4 separate regions of the Homo sapiens genome follow, and all the other regions are linked to region 1. Evidence: fine-mapped expression QTL. A gene starts in region 1. Each other region holds a variant in brackets. All regions are shown on one strand. Distances are between the middles of the regions. Region 1 holds the start of ELAPOR2 (endosome-lysosome associated apoptosis and autophagy regulator family member 2). Region 2 overlaps ELAPOR2 (endosome-lysosome associated apoptosis and autophagy regulator family member 2). Region 3 overlaps ELAPOR2 (endosome-lysosome associated apoptosis and autophagy regulator family member 2). Region 4 overlaps GRM3 (glutamate metabotropic receptor 3).

The links. PIP is the estimated chance that this variant, and not a neighbour inherited with it, causes the effect.
Region 2: its variant is the best candidate, but not a certain one, in a credible set for the expression of ELAPOR2 in subcutaneous fat (GTEx, PIP 0.57).
Region 3: its variant is the best candidate, but not a certain one, in a credible set for the expression of ELAPOR2 in whole blood (INTERVAL, PIP 0.85).
Region 4: its variant is the best candidate, but not a certain one, in a credible set for the expression of ELAPOR2 in whole blood (TOPMed, PIP 0.86).

The regions. Positions count from the first base shown.
Region 1 is chr7:87,057,308-87,062,462 of GRCh38, reverse strand. It overlaps ELAPOR2 (endosome-lysosome associated apoptosis and autophagy regulator family member 2), which reads left to right and starts at 2,809. Exons shown (of 22, transcript NM_001142749.3): 1 at 2,809-3,138. The coding sequence starts at 2,950. RefSeq lists silencers at 2,532-2,921, 3,012-3,081 and an enhancer at 3,347-3,847.
Region 2 is chr7:87,002,438-87,007,592 of GRCh38, reverse strand. The region is part of intron 1 of ELAPOR2 (endosome-lysosome associated apoptosis and autophagy regulator family member 2); the gene reads left to right. Among named protein-coding and RNA genes, the nearest start is that of ELAPOR2, 55 kb to the left of the region's middle. The variant C/G (reference allele first, on the strand shown) is at 2,980.
Region 3 is chr7:87,020,724-87,025,878 of GRCh38, reverse strand. The region is part of intron 1 of ELAPOR2 (endosome-lysosome associated apoptosis and autophagy regulator family member 2); the gene reads left to right. Among named protein-coding and RNA genes, the nearest start is that of ELAPOR2, 36 kb to the left of the region's middle. RefSeq lists a silencer at 4,259-4,459. The variant C/T (reference allele first, on the strand shown) is at 2,331.
Region 4 is chr7:86,776,235-86,781,389 of GRCh38, reverse strand. The region is part of intron 2 of GRM3 (glutamate metabotropic receptor 3); the gene reads right to left. GRM3-AS1 (GRM3 antisense RNA 1) reads left to right here. Exons shown (of 4, transcript XR_007060408.1): 3 at 1-5,155. Among named protein-coding and RNA genes, the nearest start is that of GRM3-AS1, 25 kb to the left of the region's middle. The variant G/A (reference allele first, on the strand shown) is at 2,623.

The DNA.
Region 1 (5,155 bases):
ACTGCACATTGTGCACATGTACCCTAAAACTTAAAGTATAATAATAAAAATAAAAATAAAAATAAAATAAATAAAAATTGGGGTTATTTATACCACAATCTGATTTAAGTTAAAAAAGAAAATAAATCTATTTATATAGCATCATTTTGGCTATGGCTTTTGTTGATACAGCTAAGGCTTTTGTTGACTTTTTAACAAAATTCAGTTCAATTTTCAGGTATACACTGCACAAATAAAGTGGAAAAATGATTATTACCTAGTGATTGTAAGCTATTTCAACCCATTCTTGCAAAAATTTCATTATGAATTTTCTATTAAAGTATATTTTTATAAAACTATCTTTAAGAGTAAATTTATTGATCAGATAATCACAAACTTTGAATAATTTGCTATTACATCCTAAAATAACAGGTAGAAGAGGACCTTAGAGTCTTCTTGAAATTTCCTTTCTCTGTCAGCCTTTATGCTGATTTTAATTATCCAAGGTCAAGATCTTTTTTATGGATGGGACAACTATGAGAAAAGTATTTATTGAAAGTGGCAAGTTGTCCTACTCTGGAAAATCTACAATTGTCATTTGATCCAAGTGCATTGACTGGACGACTCTTATTTTTATAAGGAAAGAAGCTGTTTTCAATTTAATAGTCATGTTGTTAGTTCTTTCTCAGATGACAAAAATCATAACATAATTTGACTCCTAAAAATTCCACATGAATTAAAGAATAAAGCATATAAAAAGGAAATAATAACAAAATATAACAAAATAAGAAAACATAGGCATCTGTATGATTTTGCAGAGATACGTGTACTTCTAGATATAAAAAAGGAAGAAATCACAAAAGAAAATGTTGCTACATTTGAATACCTAAAGATGACAAGCTTCTGCCAGAAAAGCTATCAGAAGTAAATTTAAAAGACTACAAAAAAGTATTTGTAAGATATATGATAAACATACACAAAGCTTATGAAGATTGCTAACGAATCAATAAAAAATGGAACTTCAATAAAATGGCTAAAGTGTGCCAGTGAAAAATTCTCACACCCTGACATGAGAAGGAAAAATGCAAATAGCTAGTAGATATATATAAAAAATCACTCGATGTCACCAATGATAAAAATACATTTTAAAAATAATAGCTTTTGTCTCTTCTACCAAAATGATAAATATCTGAAGTATTATAATCTAGGGTGATGTGAAATAAATACTCATAAACTGCTGGTAACAATTGCTACAAATTTTTTGGAAGGAATTTGTACACTATTCGTCAAAAACTTTAAAAATACACATATCATGTGATCCAATGTTTTCACTTCTAGAAAGTTATCATAAAATATTTAAAGATGCACACAGATTATGTTCCAAGGGCATTCTTTCCAGAATTATTAATAACACTGAATCCTTAAACAATGCCTAATATCTAATAGTAAATTACATGTATCTAAAGAGTAGAAAATATTTTACAATTATTAAAGTTGTGTTGTTGGAGACTTTAATGACTTGAGAAAATATTTATGTTATTAAGAATAAAAATAAAAGCAGGTTACAAATTATTATTCCAGTTTTGCAGTACACACAGAGTTAAAAAAAAAAAAGCAAGGAAATTCCTCAACATGTTAATACCATTAACAATGTTATCTCTGGGTGGTAGGATCTCTAGTTATTTTTATATTCTTCCTGATACTTTTCAATATTTTCCAAAATGTTTACAAATAACATATATTGTTATAATCAGAATATAGGTGTGATACACAAATCTATATGTGTATACATACACACAAACACACATATACAGAGACTTTCATGTGGAAATTTTGTTAAAAGGATATTAGAGATAATGCCACAAACAAATGTGCCACAGGCCAACTTATAATGAGTGGGCCACGTGGATTTGTCCAGATATTCAATAATCAGAAATTTGGATGCTTCTTTTGAAAAACACAATAACTCACCCATTTACAGAATCTGAGATCAAGAAGGGATCTTGAGATCCTTGCCACTGAGGAAGGCCTTATGTCCATCTTGTTCACCATCACCTAGTTCAGTATGTTTTTGAATGAAAGAAAAAACGAAGAGCACCTCAATCATCGCACAGATGGAGAAACTGTTTCCTCCAGAAAACACAGGGCTTAATGCCCAATGTTACACATCTCCACAAAATAACACCAATAGCAGCAATAATTATGGCTACTACTACCAACACATGTCACCTACTGTGTGCCAGGCACTCTTCCAAGTGCTTTATGTACATCAACTTACTTAATCCTCATAATAATCCTACGTGGTGGGTATTATTTTCATTAAATAGGTGAGAAAACTGAGTCACACACCACGTCTACACCTCAGTCCTCTTTCTTCCCCGCCATTTCATGCACACCCTAACTAGAAATTCGATCTGACGCTAGCCAGCATGGATCCTTACAAGGGATGTTCCGAGGGCACATCTGCGTGTTTGTGTGCAATGAGGAAAGTGGCGAGCTTTTTAAAGACCCACCGCCAGAAAACAATGTCCTGATGTCCTGTATTTACTCTGGCTTCATCCCGGGAGCGCCCCTCCCAGTGGGCCACGGGGACCTGAGACAGGCTACTCCACGGGGTCCCCAGCCTCTCTCGCCCTCTAGCGCGAGGCGAGCGCCGCGCAGCCCCTGGGGACCCGCCGGGCTGGGCCGCAGCCCCCGCCCGCGCCACCTGCTCCCCAGCTCCAGCGTCCCCGCCCCGCGTCCCGCCCCCGCGCCGCGCCCGCGCCCCGCGGTCCCTCCCTCCGGCGTGACGGGAGCATCGGCGCTGGCTGCCCGGGCCGCGAGCGCAGCAGAGCTGTCAGCGGGCGGACGGGCAGCGGGTGACGGAGCGGCGAGACGAGCGCACAGCAGTCGCGGCCCGGGAGCCGGAGCTGCCGCCGCACCCCGGGAAGGCTGCCTTGCCGCCGGCCCGCCGACCGCGGCCGGACGAAGATGCTGTTCCGCGCCCGGGGGCCGGTACGGGGCAGGGGCTGGGGGCGGCCGGCGGAGGCTCCCCGCCGCGGGCGCTCGCCGCCCTGGAGCCCCGCCTGGATTTGCTGCTGGGCGCTCGCCGGCTGCCAGGCGGCCTGGGCTGGGGACCTGCCCTCCTCCTCCAGCCGCCCGCTTCCTCCTTGCCAGGAGGTGAGCAGCACCTGGTCCTCTACCTGGAGTTTGCTGGGGGAGGGCGCGGAAGATGAAGGCTGAGAGCGGTTCCTGTTTATTTCTGTTTGCCATCCCCTTTTCCTTTGCTTGGAGAACAGGGGCTTTCGTTTGCTTCGAGGGGTGAAGTTGCCCGCCCTGGTAGCTGGCCCGGAGAGGGTGTGTGGCTTCGCTGTCTCTCGGGGGATGCTTTTCTGTCCGCGCTTGTGTCTTTTGGGGGCTCTGCAGGACTTTGCGGCGTCCTTTTTGGACAGCCAGGTTTGAGGACCTGGGGTCGAGGGAAAGATTTCAGGAAGGGGAGGAGACTGGGGAAGCCCCACCAGTGGGATTTGAAGAACCATCTCATCACAGCTTTTCCAGAGAGCCAGACACAGACACCAGAGGATTTCCCGCTCCTCCTCCCCCTGTCTCCACTCCCCTGTCTCTGCAAACGCCTTCGTCCTACTCCCCTGCCCTCAGCTTCCTGATTAAGGCCCTGTGGGTTTGCTAAGCCAATGTATGGTGTCACTTAGCATCCTTCTGACAAAATGTGGATTTGAATTTGGGGGGGAAAAAAAAGGAGTATGTACTTGGTAGAGAAGATGCAGGTTGATGATGGAGAAAATTAGAAAAGACAGTGAATATGCTTCTTTTGGGAGGTGCTTTATCACCTGGCTGAAGTATTGCCGCGGTGTATTTTATAGCTTGTAATCATTGTTGTTTTACAGCCAAAAAGGATAAACTATGGGAGATGAGATTTTTATCTGGCTTTTAGAAGAACGAGACAGTGTGCCAAAAATTTACAGGGGGTGTCATTGGTTCTTGTATTGGGTGTTTATCTTTCCATTTAGTGTTCAGAAAGTGCATCCTCTTAATGAAAATCAATGAGGGGAAGGAAGCAACATTTCTGACCTACTTTGATTGTGTTGGGAGGATATATGGAATAGATACTGTTTTTAGGAAGATTGTTAGGAATCAGGGCGATGGGTCGTTTTAATTAATGTAGCAAAAATAGGTTAGCCAATAGCCCCTCTGGGAAGAAAGGCCAGACCCTCTTGTTTGTGTATGTTGCTCTAACTTCTGAATTTTACCGAGACTTGAATTACAGAGTATCTGTGTTCTACACATCATCCATCATCTATGGATTTTCGTCTTTCTCTCCTACAGTACAGGTCCCAGGACAGACTGAAATGAAAGAGAATCGGATCAAAGGCTTGTGTGCGAACACACAGCAATGTTGTAATTGGGGAAATCAGGGCAAGAGCTCAACAAACAGCTGTGTTTAATTTTAGGGCTTTTTAGTATAATGAGCTTAATCTATATTCTACAACTTTACATATCACCTGGGAATAATCCATTATTCCAGGTTTCCACAGAAAGCTGCTTCTTGGACATCTCAGATTGAACAGTTGTGACAAGATAAACTTTATCCTCCAGCCCCCAACTTCTAATATGCAGAATATATTTTTCTAAACTGAAAAGTCTTAAGCTTCTGATAACATCGATTCTTAGTAATGAAAATCTGCTTGAAGTAGGCGAAGGTCAGGGTCAATAGAAGTGATGCCTTTGGTCTCTACAACTAGACTAATCTTTTAGATGAACACATGTCCTACACATGTATACCTAGAAAGAAGAGTCTGCAACCTAAAACAAAGATTGAAAGGAGGGGCAGAGAGATGACAGAAGGTTCAGGAAGGCTGGGTTCACTTGATCACAGGTCCTTACTGCATTGGCTTTAGAAATTGCATGTGACTCATCCGTTGAGATCTGAAATTTACATTTTCCTTCTGAAAAATGAGAATAAATAAAATATATAGGAGGACGCTATTGAGCCTGCCTTTGGCTGTATGTTTTTATAAATGTTAATGCACAGATCCATTTATGTTCTTCCTGATGACTGACAAGTAAGAGGAACTAATGGGAGTTAGAAGTTCTTGGAAGTAGAAGAGGCCTAGTGACCTCCCAGGGGTTGAATCTGTTTGATATCTGGTCTAACCAGTGGAGCTAATTTACAGAATTG
Region 2 (5,155 bases), 55 kb after region 1:
CCAAGCATGTTTGTTCTACTGAGTGTTCTTTTTTCCCCTAGATCTTCCAAGTAGATAAATCTAGAAAATGTGTGTTTATGTCTGCATATAAACGTGTGCATATCTACCTCTTTATCTTATTTCATTCCATATCTGTTCATATTAAAAACTACAAGTTTGTGCTGGTAACATTAATTCCACTTGAACAGCACAGTGTACATTCATGTCTTTATCTTTTTTATACTTGTAACTACTTTCTCCAACAATGAGAAACCTGGTTTCAGTTATACTCAGTGTATATACTCATTTGCTCAAGTCTAGAATACATGGAAATTGGTTTCAGAATTGTTGGCCCATACCACTGCAGAAAGCAAACCTACTAACTAGGGTTCTGTATTTGTTTACTTTTTTGAGGTACAGTGTACATACAATCAGATGCACAAATGTTAAGTGTACAGTTTCAGCTTTGACACATGCACATATCTGTGTCAAGACAGGGTACTTCTATCACTCAAAACACTCCATTTTCTTTCCAGTTAATTCTCTCTCCAACTCTGCTGCCCAGAAGCAAACACTTTTCTGACTCTTTTCACCACAGTTTAGTTTTGCTGGTTTTAGAACTTTATATAAATGGAATTATACAGTACATACTTTTGTGTGTGTGTCTGGCTTCTTTCACTCAACATCATGTTTTTTGAGATTCATCCACATTGTTATGCATATCAGCAGTTTGTTTCTTTTTATTGCTGAGCAGTGTTCCCTTGTATAACTGTACCACAATTTACCTATTTTTCTGTTGATGGACATTTGGGTTGTTTCTAGTTTTCAGCTATTTTGAATATAATAAGTGGCTGTGAATATTTTTGTACAAGTCTGCTTTGTGGACATTATGGTTTTATATCTTTTGGGTAAAATCTTGAGTAGAATGGCTGGACCATTGGATAGGTGTTTATTGAGCTGTATAGGAAACTACCAAACACTTGTTCCAAGTTGTTTTCATTCCTATCTGCAAGATGAGTGTTCTAGTTGCTTCACATCCTTGTCCACATCCTGAGTTTTCAGTCTTTTTCTTTCTTTCTTTCTTTTTTAAATTATACTTTAAGTTATGGGGTCCATGTGCAGAATGTGCATGTTTGTTACATAGGTATACATGTGCCATAGTGGTTTGCTGCACCCATCAACCTGTCATCTACATTAGGTATTTCTCCTAATGCTATCCCTCCCCTAGCCCCCCACCCCCCAACAGGCCTTTTTATTGTGACAATTCTAGTGGATGTGTAGTGGTGCCTCATCGCGATTTTAATTTGCATTTCCCTGGCAACCAATGATTAAATTACTTCTGTAATTGATTAATTAAATTATTAAATGACTTTTTAATGTGTGTATTGGTCATTTGTATATCTTTCTTTGGGAAGTTTCTGTTGAAGTCCTGTGCTGATTCTAAATTCTAAAACTCATTCTGGTAAATTTTAGCCCCGTGTATGTGCTAAAAGGTTAGCTAGCAGTGGTTTATGAAATGTGATCACAAAAAGCCAATTTTTAATTGAATTGTAGAAGCTTTTAATATATTCTGAGTGCAAATTCTTTGCCAGAAGTATGTTTTCAGAATATTTTCTTCCAGTCTATGACTTGCCAGTTCTGTTTTCTTAATGTCATGTTTTGGTGAGCAGGAATTTTAAATTTCAGTAAAGTCTTATTTACCTTTCTTTCTTCTTTTATAATTATTGCATTCTGTATTTGGTCAAAGAAATCTTTCCTACTCTTGATCATGAAGATAGTTTCTTGTTTTCCTCAAAATGTTTATAGTTTTAACTTTAACACTGAAGCCTATGACCCACCTTGAATTAAACTTTGTACCTAGGTATGAGAGTAGGAATTGAAGTTTATTTCTCCATTTGGATATTCTGTTGTTCCAACACCATTTGTTGAGAAGATCTTTTCTTTCCTTACTGAATTATTTTGGCACCATTTTGGAAAATCAGTTGTCCACATCAGTGAGAGTTCTCTGAATAATTTTAATTACAAATATGGCTTTGATTTTCATTGAACTGTTACTCTATATTTCAAGCAGTATTCATAAAAACCTACATTCAGCTTTTACCTAGGGAAATCCTGTTGTGTTCTGAATACTCTTTCCTTCAAATGCCAGGACAAATCATTGTGTTTTTTGCTGTTAGGTGAAATATGTCATGTGTGGATCTAGCACATATGCCATTTTCTTCTCTCAACATTGTCCTTTTGCCAATATAGAAGGCTTCCTGGGTAATTCTTTTTTAGCCCTATTGAGGAAACACAGACTTTAATGTCATAAAATAGTGCTTCATTTTTATCAAAGCATTATGTGCCATGATGCTTATAGTAAATACAGTAAAAGCAATTGACATGCCTTTCTTTTTTTCCTTTTGTTCATTTGTTTGGTGTATACGTATTGAGCTTCCATTATAAACTGTCTCACTGTGGGCCCATAAGGATTAATGACAATTCATTTTTTGTGGTCACATTTCATAAATCATTGCTAGCTGACCTTTTAGCACATAGACAGGACCAAAGTTTGCCATAATGGGCACCTTGCACTCAGCCCATACAATATGCACAGAGGAACCCTTCTCCTACTCCTTGAAAGGATTAGGAAGCTGCCTTGGAGATCTCATTATTGGTAGCTCTGGGCAGTTGCAAAGAGGGGTCATAGCTCTCCTTCCTACTGCTTACTATGTAGGATTTATTTTCCCAGGGTTAGCAATTTTCTTTGGGGTCTGATATTCTTTAGAGAAAGATACTTAAAGTTGTAGATCATTTTTCTCTGTTCTTTCTCTTTTATGCATAGCAGTTTAGGGCCTCCTTCTCCGTTAATATGTCCGATGGCCTTCATGATGAGAATGCACTGTCTGTAATTAGCTGTGCAGCTGATGACGTGCCTCCAGTAGCCACCAGCATGTGACCTTGATAGTATGTAAGTGTTAGGAAAAAAAGTGTTGGTTGGCTGTTATCTCTAATCCACCA[C/G]AGCTGAGCAAGAATAATGGCAGATGACAGGGCAGGCAGGCTGAAAACTCCTATGAAGAGTTGCTTTCTGCAGCATCTTGTGTACAACAGCCTGTCAAAGACACTTAGAGTTTGTGGTGGGAGCTCCACATGGCTGACAAGGCAGCAGCATTATGTTTGGTGTGTGGACATGTATTGAATTTGTATTAGCTTCTTTTGTAAGGCAAAGTGAAAGTACGTAATGAAATGAGTAACGTGTATAGAAACATTGATTTTGTTTCATACTGGGGCACAGAGGCCAACCCTGTTCTCTGCTCTGGTGTTTGAATGGGGGCTGATCTTTAGCCTGCGGCTATTTTGCCTTCATTTTGGAAACAAGCACATTCTCCCTTTGTTGTCCCCCACCCATCCAGGAAAGAGAGGCATCTGTTGTCATATCCATTATTTATCTGTGAGAAACAATTTTACTTAATTATCTTCTCGGCTCCTGCAGGCCTGCCTTGGCCCTCTCCCTTTTGAAAGGATAATAGGACTCGATGCTGTTAATATGTTTTAATTAGTGAGCTCATGGCACAGCCAGTACCTCACACTTGACTTTTTAGATGGCTTTGTAGATAAGAACCTCTGCAGCAAAAAGGGAAGCCTGGGAGTGTGCAGGCTTCCTTTGAGCCATGTTCAAGTCTCACAGCAGCTAAGCGAAGTGCTTATTTTCTCAACACCATTATTCCTGTCTGACTCTGCCAAAGTGACAGAGATTGCTTTCTAAGTTACTTCATGTGGCTTCTTTGCATTGTTGGGAAAATGCTTTATTCTCAGAGGCTGAGCTTCTTTATTTTAAAATAAGGCATTTGAACCACAATAAGCTTTCAGGCACTCTTGTGCTATAAGTTTACATTCCTTGATGAATGTTGAGATTCTGGAAGCCATATTTGCAAGTTGTATTAGCTCGTTCTCACATTGTTATAAAGACCTACCTGAGACTGGGTAGTTTATAAAGAAAAGAGGCTTAATTGACTCACAGTTCCACAGGCTGTCCAGGAGGCATGGCTGAGGAGGTCTCAGGAAACTTACAAGCATGGCAGAATGCAAAGGGGAAGGAACCACATCTTCACATGGCCAGCAGGAGAGAAAGCGAAGGGGGAAGTGCTACATACTTTTAAATAACCAGATCTTGTGAGAACTCACTATCATGAGAATAGCAAGGGGGAAATTTGCCCCCATGATCAAATCACCTCCTACCAGTACCCTCCCCCAACACTGGGGATTACAATTCAACATGAGATTCTGTTGGGGATACAGAGCCAAACCAGATCCCAAGCCATAATGTCAGAAGCTCTCAGATCCAAGGAAAGGGGTTCTTGGCTGGTACCATATACATTATGGCCTTGGGAAAAGTGTGGGTTTAGCTGACCCCTGCAATATTAGCCTGTCTTTGCCTTGGTAAAAATGTAGGGCAGGGTTATTTTAACATCTTATTTCTTCCTTATCAGAGAAATGCTCTTTGTGTTATCAATCCCATAAAGAAGGGCTTGCTAAGAGATGGCAGACCTGTAGAACCTGTGTGACTCTACCTGTCTACCCATCTAAGGACTGAAGAATTTCTGGGAGAGCAAATTTATGATGTAGTCATTACCTTCTTCCTCCTCTTAGGAGCGCCATTCATCCTGTTTGCCTCTCCAAAATCAAGCCCTAAAGCCAGGGAATGTCTAGTCCAGGATGTAGCATGGGAGGTTTTGAAGGAGTGTGGTTCATTTCTCACCTGCAGTTACTGTTGGCTGGCAACTCACAGAAGTGTCCCATGCTCTGCTACAGTGAAGTGCTGGGGGATGGGGTATCTAGCCCAACATGTGCCAAAGCTTCACAAAATCCTGAAAGACTGGGAGTGAGGGGCTGTAATTTCCTGAAGTACTCAGTGTTAAGGATACAGTAGGTAGTTGAGTGGGAGGCATTGGTGGGCTTCCCTGGGAACTCTACCCCCAATGAAGTGAGGAGACACATGCCTGATGAGGGAGTGTTCTGCCTACCCCTGCTGGGGTCTAGAAGAGTCACAGAAATTCCCCTCTCAGAATCTTGTGTGCCTTCATGGAGGAAATGATGCCTGGTAGCATCCTTTGCCTACTCTAAGAAAAGTTGAGTGGTAGAAGGCTTTAGTATTTAAGCACTCATATAGAGGGAGCCAACCATTCTCATGGTAACA
Region 3 (5,155 bases), 37 kb after region 1:
AATTGACAATTTTTTTCATTGAATTAATTAGCTCCTTCAAAAATATAACATATGTCTAACATGTTGAGGAATTTTGAAGAATTATGCTCAAATTTGATTTTACTTGAAATGTTTTAAATTTAGTAAAATTATTTAATGTTAGAGGCTTAATAGTTCTTCAATATTATGTAAAAAATTGGCCTTAATTTACAGTAGCTTGAAAAGCATAATCTAATTTTAATTATCCAGAAGAAAAATTTTTAATCACTTTTTTTGGAAGTGAATTGATTGGCAGGTAATGCTCAATTGGTTATGTGTGCACCAGAGTGTGGTGGGATAAGCATTGGCCTGTGAGTCAAGAGACCCAGTTACAAGATTTTACTTGTCATTAATTGTGTGACCTGAGTAACTTGCTTTCTGCTGGACTCCATCTTCTCATTTGGCAAAGAAAGAGACTGGTTTAGATCATCTGTAAAGTCCTTTCCAAGCTTGACATTTTATGACTTTATTTCTTCTTGTTTTATATTTTTAGATAAAATAGGAATTAGGTCTTTGCTTTTTGTTCGATACTCTTGACTGAAGGGGGATTTTTCCTGTCCAATATGGTCATACTGGGCAGAGAATGTAGCTTGATGGTTTTTAGAAAATAAGCATTGTCTGAAAATAGTCAACAAGAGGGCTTGGTGAATCTGCCAACAGATGACTGCTTCTACAATTTCATTTAGTCATCTAAACGAATTGAATTTAGACATTTAGCATGAAATACTTAGTATTCCTCAAGACAAGGTTTAGGGACCATAGAATGTCTTAGCCTTCTATAATTCTGACTTGGTTTATCAGGTGACCTACAGTATGGAGGAATCATAATCTTATAAATTACATCCATGACAGCCTATGGTTTTTTTTTTTTTTCTGTAGGAAAAGACTCTTAGGTCAGTGATGTAAGGCAGGCATGGGTGATACTTGCTTTTTATTTTAAAAAATAAATTTTATTATTGCCTCAATTTCAGAGCCTGTTATTGGTCTATTCAGAGATTCAACTTCTTCCTGGTTTAGTCTTGGGAGGGTGTATGTGTCAAGGAATTTATCCCTTTTTTCTAGATTTTCTAGTTTATTTGTGTAGAGGTGTTTATAGTATTCTCTGATGGTAGTTTGTATTTCTGTGGGATCGGTGATAATTATAGCTTACCAACCAAAAAAAGTCCAGGACCAGATGGATTCACAGCCGAATTCTACCAGAGGTACAAGGAGGAGCTGGTACTATTCCTTCTGAAACTATTCCAATCAATAGAAAAAGAGGGAATCCTCCCTAACTCATTTTATGAGGCCAGCGTCATCCTGATACCAAAGCCTGGCAGAGAGACAACAAAAAAAGAGAATTTTAGACCAATATCCCTGATGAACATTGATGCAGAAATCCTCGATAAAATACTGGCAAACCGAATCCAGCAGGACATCAAAAAGCTTATCCACCATGATCAAGTGGGCTTCATCCCTGGGATGCAAGGCTGGTTCAATATATGCAAATCAATAAACGTAATCCAGCATATAAACAGAACCAACGACGAAAACCACATGACTATCTCAATAGATGCAGAAAAGGCCTTTGACAAAATTCAACAACGCTTCATGCTAAAAACTCTCAATAAATTAGGTATTGATGGGACGTATCTCAAAATAATGAGAGCTATCTACGACAAACTCACAGCCAATATCATACTGAATGGGCAAAAACTGGAAGCATTCCCTTTGAAAACTGGCACAAGAGAGGGATGCCCTCTCTCCACTCCTATTCAACATAGTGTTGGAAGTTCTGGCCAGGGCAATCAGGCAGGAGAAGGAAATAAAGGGTATTCAATTAGGCAAAGAGGAAGTCAAATTGTCCCTGTTTGCGGATGACATGATTGTATATCTAGAAAACCCCATCGTCTCAGCCCAAAATCTCCTTAAGCTGATAAGCAACTTCAGCAAAGTCTCAGGATACAAAATCAGTGTGCAAAAATCACAAGCATTCTTATACACCAACAACAGACAAACAGAGAGCCAAATCATGAGTAAACTCCCATTCACAATTGCTTCAAAGCAAATAAAATACCTAGGAATCCAACTTACAAGGGATGTGAAGGACCTCTTCAAGGAGAACTACAAACCACTGCTCAATGAAATAAAAGAGGATACAAACAAATGGAAGAACATTCCATGCTCATGGGTAGGAAGAATCAATATCATGAAAATGGCCATACTGCCCAAGGTAATTTATAGATTCACTGCCATCCCAATCAAGCTACCAATCACTTTCTTCACAGAACTGGAAAAAACTACTTTAAAGTTAATATGGAACCAAAAAAGAG[C/T]CCGCATTGCCAAGTCAATTCTAAGCCAAAAGAACAAAGCTGGAGGCATCACACTACCTGACTTCAAGCTATACTAGAAGGCTACAGTAACCAAAACAGCATGGTACTGGTACCAAAACAGAGATATAGACCAATGGAACAGAACAGAGCCCTCAGAAATAATGCCGCATATCTGCAACTATCTGATCTTTGACAAACCTGACAAAAACAAGAAATGGGGAAAGGATTCCCTATTTAATAAATGGTGCTGGGAAAACTGGCTAGCCATATGTAGAAAGCTGAAACTGGATCCTTTCCTTACACCTTATACAAAAGTTAATTCAAGATGGATTAAAGACTTAAATGTTAGACCTAAAACCATACAAACCCTAGAAGAAAACCTAGGCAATACCATTCAGGACATAGGCATGGGCAAGGACTTCATGTCTAAAACACCAAAAGCAATGGCAACAAAAGCCAAAATTGACAAATGGGATCTAATTAAACTAAAGAGCAAAATAAACTAACATCAGAGTGAACAGGCAACTTACAGAATGGGAGAAAATTTTTGCAATCTACTCATCTGACAAAGGGTTAATATCCAGAATCTACAATGAACTCCAACAAATTTACAAGAAAAAAACAACCCCATCAAAAAGTGGGCAAAGGATATGAACAGACACTTCTCAAAAGAAGACATTTATACAGCCAAAAAACACATGAAAAAATGCTCATTATCACTGGCCATCAGAGAAATGCAAATCAAAACCACAATGAGGTACCATCTCACACCAGTTAGAATGGCAATCATTAAAAAGTCAGGAAACAACAGGTGCTGGAGAGGATGTGGAGAAATAGGAACACTTTTACACTGTTGGTGGGACTGTAAACTAGTTCAACCATTGTGGAAGTCAGTGTGGCGATTCCTCAGGGATCTAGAACTAGAAATACCATTTGACCCAGTCATCCCATTACTGGGTATATACCCAAAGGATTATAAATCATGCTGCTATAAAGATACATGCACACATGTTTATTGGGGCACTACTCACAATAGCAAAGACTTGGAACCAACCCAAATGTTCAACAATGATAGACTGGATTAAGAAATTGTGGCACATATACACCATGGAATACTATGCAGCCATAAAAAATGATGAGTTCATGTCCTTTGTAGGGACATGGATGAAGCTGGAAACCATCATTCTCAGCAAACTATCGCAAGGACAATAAAACCAAACACCACATGTTCTCACTCGTAGGTGGGACTTGAACAATGAGAACACATGGACACAGGAAGGGGAACATCACACACTGGGGCCTGTTGTGGGGTGGGGGGAGGGGGGAGGGATAGCATTAGGAGATATAACTAATGTTAAATGACGAGTTAATTGGTGCAACACACCAACATGGCACATGTATACATATGTAACAAACCTGCATGTTGTGCACATGTACCCTAAAACTTAAAGTATAATACAAAATAAATAAATAAATAAATTTTAGTTTAGTTTATTCACTAACCTATGGCTGTCAACTGCTGAGGCCTTATTTACTCATTTGAAAATGATCATATTCCACAGGGATGTTTTATAAGACAATTATTCCTAAATAGAGATATATCACACTCTGAGCTGGCAAAAGCTCAACTTTGTAAAGATGTCTGTTTGCCTCATTTTAATCTGTACATTTAAAAGAATAGCCCCCAATCCAAATATAGTTTTGCCTCCTTGGGAATGTGTATCTGTTGAAGGTGTAAGTTAGAAATTTAAATGTTCTTCAGGTTTGTAAGATAGACTTTGTTCTGAGATTAGCTGGGAAAATGCTGAAAAATAAATGTGTTAAAGAGAGGTATTCTCATAACTTACAGGTGAGAGTATAAATGATTAAAGACTGTCTGGAAACAGTTGGGTAATATTTATCAAGAGCTTTAAAATACATGTTCTTACCAGGTATTCTGTATCTATTTCTGTAATTATCTTAAGTAAATTGGTTAACTAAACAGTGGTATACGTAGAAGGTTGTTATTCATCTTAGTGTTATTTATAAACAACCCACATTTTTAAGAGGTGACTGGTTAAATATATTGTTTCCTTATGATATGGATATCATGAGTCATTAAATGTGTTGATATGGCAGTATATTTATTTACATGGAAGAGATTTACAATATATTAGGCAGAATACAAAACATCTTATGAAGACATTGGTGTAGGTATATATGCGTGTGTATCTATTTGGGAAAATGTGCAACAAATTAACTGTGATTATCCCTGGGTGGCAAGATTATGTATGTCTTGTCATCCTTTATTTCACATATAAAGCTCTATTTCTAGTTTTTCTACAGAGATCATGGATTCTTTGAGAGGAAGTAAAACATAACAGTTAAAGCAGTTGAGAGGGTTGAACTCAGTCTGGCTGGGTTTAAATCCCAGTTCTATCACTTACTAGCTGTGTAATCCTTAGCTAGTCACTTTATTCTGTGTTGTTCTAATCTGTAAAGTAGGGATAATCATAATAGAAATTAATAATACCTACCCCATAGAGTTGTGAGGATTAAACATATTTAATACATATGAACTCTTTAGAACAGCTCATGCTACTATATTAATGTTAGACTTTATTATTTTTGTAATAAAAGTAGCACATGCAAGAGAAACAGACACACTAGCATACCTGGAATCTACTGGTAGAGGAAATGGTCTCAAGCGATTGAAATGATTTGGTAAATTTTAAAGAGGAATGTGATGACTGGATGTTTACTTTTTTCTTTACAATTTCTAAATTTTAAATTTAAAAATTATTAAGGCTAAATTCATTTAACATAAAATTAATCATTTAAAAGTG
Region 4 (5,155 bases), 280 kb after region 1:
GGCTAAAGTCAAAGACGGATTATTAAGTGGTTTATCCTGTTTAGATTCCAATTCAGAATTCCTCAGAAGTGAACAAAGAAGAGCTATTTCAGTTTTCCTATTCTCTAAGTTACTGTTTTCAGACTACCTTTTTTTTTGGGTAAGGCTTTTTTGGGGAAGCCTTTTAAAGATCCCTAGTATTTTCAGTAGTCCTAATATTTTTGTGCCAGCTACTGTTCTAATTGTTGCAGATGTGTTTTCTCATTTAATCCTCAGGGCATTCTTATGATGTAGATACTACCATTATCCCATTTTATAGCTTGAGAAACTAAGGTAAAGAGTGCATAGAGATCTTACTGAGGAACCCATAAGTGGTAGGAATTCTGGGACCACTCACTGTACTCACTTTTGTCATATTTATCCAGTCCATTCTGCAATCCAAGCTCGTAATGGATTCCTCTCACTATAATGATGCAATGATATATTTCAAGGTATAATGTTTGTCTGTTTTTTTGTTCTGAAGCCATAAACTCCTTTATTTGAGGATCATGACCAATCATCCCTTGCTATCAAAAGTATGCTTTTCATTTGTCAGTCTGTGCTTTGTGGTGACTCCATAAACATTCGTTTACTGACTGGCCATCAACAGAGATAACAATGATAGTCTAAGAGTCTACTGGGAAATTTCCACGGGGGCAATGAAAGCTTCAAGCTATAAATATCAGAGTCAGATTTGGCTTTCTGATTTATGTGAGAAACACAATGGCCTTATAGCAGAACCCATTAGTTCCTAGGGCCTGAGAGGCGGCATGCAAGTAAGTTATGTTTAGCAGAATCTCTTTCCATGTGTAGCATGTACTGTCATTTTATTTTCAATGTTCAGATATTATGCGGTACCCATTTTCTTGGTGTTTTGAATTTATCCAGGACTTAGGTGTTGCAATGTTTTCATTGCAGGTTATCAAGTCACAGATGTGATTAATTTTGCTCAAGAAGAAATGCTGGACTTGGCCAGATATGATTATGTTTGCCAGCAGATGCAATGTTATAAAATTGGTATTTTTTAATTATACTTTAAGTTTTAGGGTACATTTGCACAATGTGCAAGTTTGTTACATATGCATACAGGGATCTAGAACTAGAAATACCATTTGACCCAGCCATCCCATTACTGGTATATACCCAAAGAATTACACATCATGCTGCTATAAAGACACATGCACACGTATGTTTATTGCGGCACTATTCACAATAGCAAAGACTTGGAACCAACCCAAATGTCCAACAATGATAGACTGGATTAAGAAAATGTGACACATATACACCACGGAATACTATGCAGCCATAAAAAATGATGAGTTCATGTCCTTTGTAGGGACTTGGATGAAGCTGGAAACCATCATTCTCAGCAAACTATTGCAAGGACAAAAAAAATTAGTATTTGTGTCTTTTCCCCATTGTTGTAGTTATAAGCTGGTGTAATTTAGAATGGGCTTTACTTGCAGTAGTTGTCTAACAAACCATTGCTAAATGTTATTAAATATCTGCCACCATTTTCCCAATATATTTTTTTCTTCCAAATAAACTCAACTTTATGGAGAATCTCTGACTTACTGTGATGTTCCTTCTGTCTAGAATGACCTTTACCACTTGTCTGCTCAGCTAATCCATTCAAGGGCTTCTTCTCTAAGGAACCGTTCTAATGCCTGACTTCAGAATGACTTGTGTGCCCATTCTCTGAGCCTCTTTCATTCCCTCATGTGTTTCTCTCATGGTACTAATGAAAATATATGGTGATTTCTAGATTATTCACTAAGTTCTCCACTGGAGTGAGAACTCTCGTTAATCTCTGAATTCTCAATGCCTCACAGAGTATAGAGGTGCTCTATAATATTTGTTAAATGGATTGATGAGGGAATTGATATTTTGCTGCTCTACCATGTAACCTTTTCTAATTATAATGATGGGTTTGTGTGTGTGTGTGTGTGCGCACGTGTGCACATGCACACACGACGGGGAAGCTGACCACCAGCAGGCAATATGAAGCCACTCTGAAATATGACTGATAAACAATTTTATTGTGCAATGTGGATCTTTAACTAGTCATATTCATTTTTTTATTAAAACGAGATGACACATAAGACAAGGAATTGATTTAGACCTTCAGGAATCAACTCACACCACTTGCTCCCTTATTCTTGCTTTAGGAATGTTTAAAACTTTATTTTTTTTCACAATCAATAGCCAATTGTGGAATGATGCTACAGTAGGCATCCAAGCCATACTCATTCACAGATGGGAATTTTTAGTTCAATACTAATTTATTTGGAAGTTTTATTTCTCATGATATTTTCTAACAAGGCATAGAGCCTTCTTTTTAGGATCCCAGGTGCCATGCTTTATTTCAATGATGAGTGTGTGTGTGTATCCAAATTTTGCTTTTGTGTAAGAATACCAGTCATACTGAATTAGGAACCTACCCTACTTCAGTATGACCTCATCCTAACCTAAGTACATAAGCAATGACACCATTTTTCAATCAAGTCACATTCTAAGGTACTGGGGGTTGGAACTTCCAATATTATGTTGAATATAAACTTTCAGTCTTTTAGCACTGAGTATGACATTAGCTGTATATTTTTA[G/A]TATACGGCTTTTTATTACACTGACATAGTTTTCTTCTATTTCTGTGTGTTGATTTATCACATGTTGTGCATTGCTTATCATGAAAGGTGCTGTGATCATGGGAGCAAAAGAATATGAGCTATGAGAAAGATCTCAGGCAGTTTACTCTATTCTTTTCCTGTTGTGAAAAAAGAGAATGTGAACTGGAAAATATCAGTCACTTGTGAGCCCCCACATCAGTTCCTTATTTACTATTTCTACTCAGGATATACATGATGTATCAATTTCAAACAGAGCTTTGTGCCTTCTATGCTGACACAATGCCAAATATTTTTTTTTCAACACAAGACAAAAGGACTGTGGACATGTAGAATCTGGTAGAAACAAGTTTCCCACTAAAGTGATTTTTTAGTGCTATGAGAATTATTTTCAGAAGTTTTACAGTTATTGGCTTCTGAATTTGTGCTAATACATTAAAGGGAACAATAATAAATAGTTTTATGAGGATCTATACTTAGCTACAAAAATTCCAGATGACAAAGAGGCATCAAATGCCCACTTCCAAGAAGAATGTTATTTACAGAGCTGAACTATATACATTTAAAAAATAAACCATTGCTACTGCCCTGTAATCAGGAGACTTGATAATAACCTTCATGTTTATTCTCTGCTGTTCACCTATCTTTTTGGGGCTGTTTTCTAAGAATAAGTCTACACCTTTAATTGCTTTGTCACACATGCAGTGCTGAATGTTTTGTTTAGTTCTTTTAATTAAATGCTTATATATGTGCCTGGAAGAGAACCATTGAGTTGCTGCACTTTGAACCATCTGTTACCTCATAGCACAGGTTATTACATAAAAACAAGTTCTAGAATTTGTGATGTTTAGAGACCTCAGTGTCCCTCCTATTCAGCTTGTTCAAGTTACATTATTAGCTGTACAAAATCCCAGATTGGCTTGTATTTTAAACTGGAACTGGAGGTGGTATATAGTTGACAAAACTGCCTGAGAAATTCAAGCTGTTCACATCATATGAGTTATCTGCCCATAAAGGAGTCCAATCATATTGTTATTGCTAAAAGGATTAGTAACTTTTTTTGTTTTGTTTTGTTTTGGCCACATTACCTGTAGCACATCTGGGAACAATTTGCATGAAAACAATTGATGCCCATGTCCCAAGACCAGGAATTAATGTTGATTTTAGAAATCGTATAATGAAGTATAGCAAATACCAGTGTACGCAGTATAATATGAAGAGGTCAACAACTCTTACATGCCATGGGCCCCAAAAACACTTGAGTCAAAGATCCATATTGGTTATCACCATTCAACAGCATGGCTCAGTACCAGTGATTTCACATGGACATTCCAAACAAAGGACTCCCTAATCATAGTGGAAACCTTCAAAAATTGCTCAAAGTCACCCTGCTTTCCATCCCAAGTCTCTCTGAAAATCATTGCACTCATCTCCTGTAGTTTGTAACCAGGATTGTCACACACTTTTATTTTCTTCATTTGAAACTGAAGGACTTCTTAAATAGTAAGGTTATTCATTTTGGCATTTTCATAACTCATCATTTAGGTTGAAGTGATATGCAGACCACAAAGGATTCCTCGAATCCTATCATTTCAGGAGACTGGTATTAAAAGACATGTCATATTTCTCACCATCACGATGCTATTCCACATTCAGATATCTAGCTTGTTCCCTTACTAACAAGGAACTATCTCAGGAATAACTTTCTTTCCATCCAGATTTAGCAGGTACTTACAAGACAAACAAGAAGGTATTTTGCCCACTGAATTAGTCTGCATCTGCTCTTTGCTTCCCTTTTCCCCCATGCATTAGTTTTCAGGAGAAATCACAGAAGTGAAGTGGTTCATGTTCCAGTTCCTAACAACAGGATCAAAAAGTCTGTGTCATATCTGGTGTCAAGAGTGTTTGTGTTTGCCAGCAACACCTGCGAAAGCATGACTTCCAGGGTGACTTGACATCAAAAGACCTGTTAGAAACACATCGTTTAGTACCTCAGATATTGATTTTTGACAATGTCTCTTGAAGTTTTAACAGAGCCACAAGTTGAGCTAATCTATATTTTTCTGTGGTCCCTGAAGTCACTTGTATAACAATAATATGAGAAATATGGCCTTATCAATAACAAAAGGCATGCCAATCTTTGTCAGTTGTTAACCAAAGGACAAAAGCTGTTGGGTATGCTTGGGGATAGCTGAGGGCTATAGCCTAATATTTCCTTAAATGATTATCATTTACTTTTGAGGTCTTGGGGCAATAATTTAGGGCAAAGGTATATTCACCATATTGTAGCAAACAGAATTGTGTTATTCATTGTTTTCTTGTTAACTACTCTTTACTTCAACAGAGCTGTCAGACACAAAAGAAGCAAATGGTATTGAAGCAAAAGAAGCAAACAGTGCACAGGGTTGGAATCAGGCCAGCATTGGAATCTCAGCTCCTCTCACTAGCTGTGTGACCTTCGGCTAGTTATTTTAACTCCTTAAGCTGCAATTTCTTTATCTGTCAAAAGAAAAGG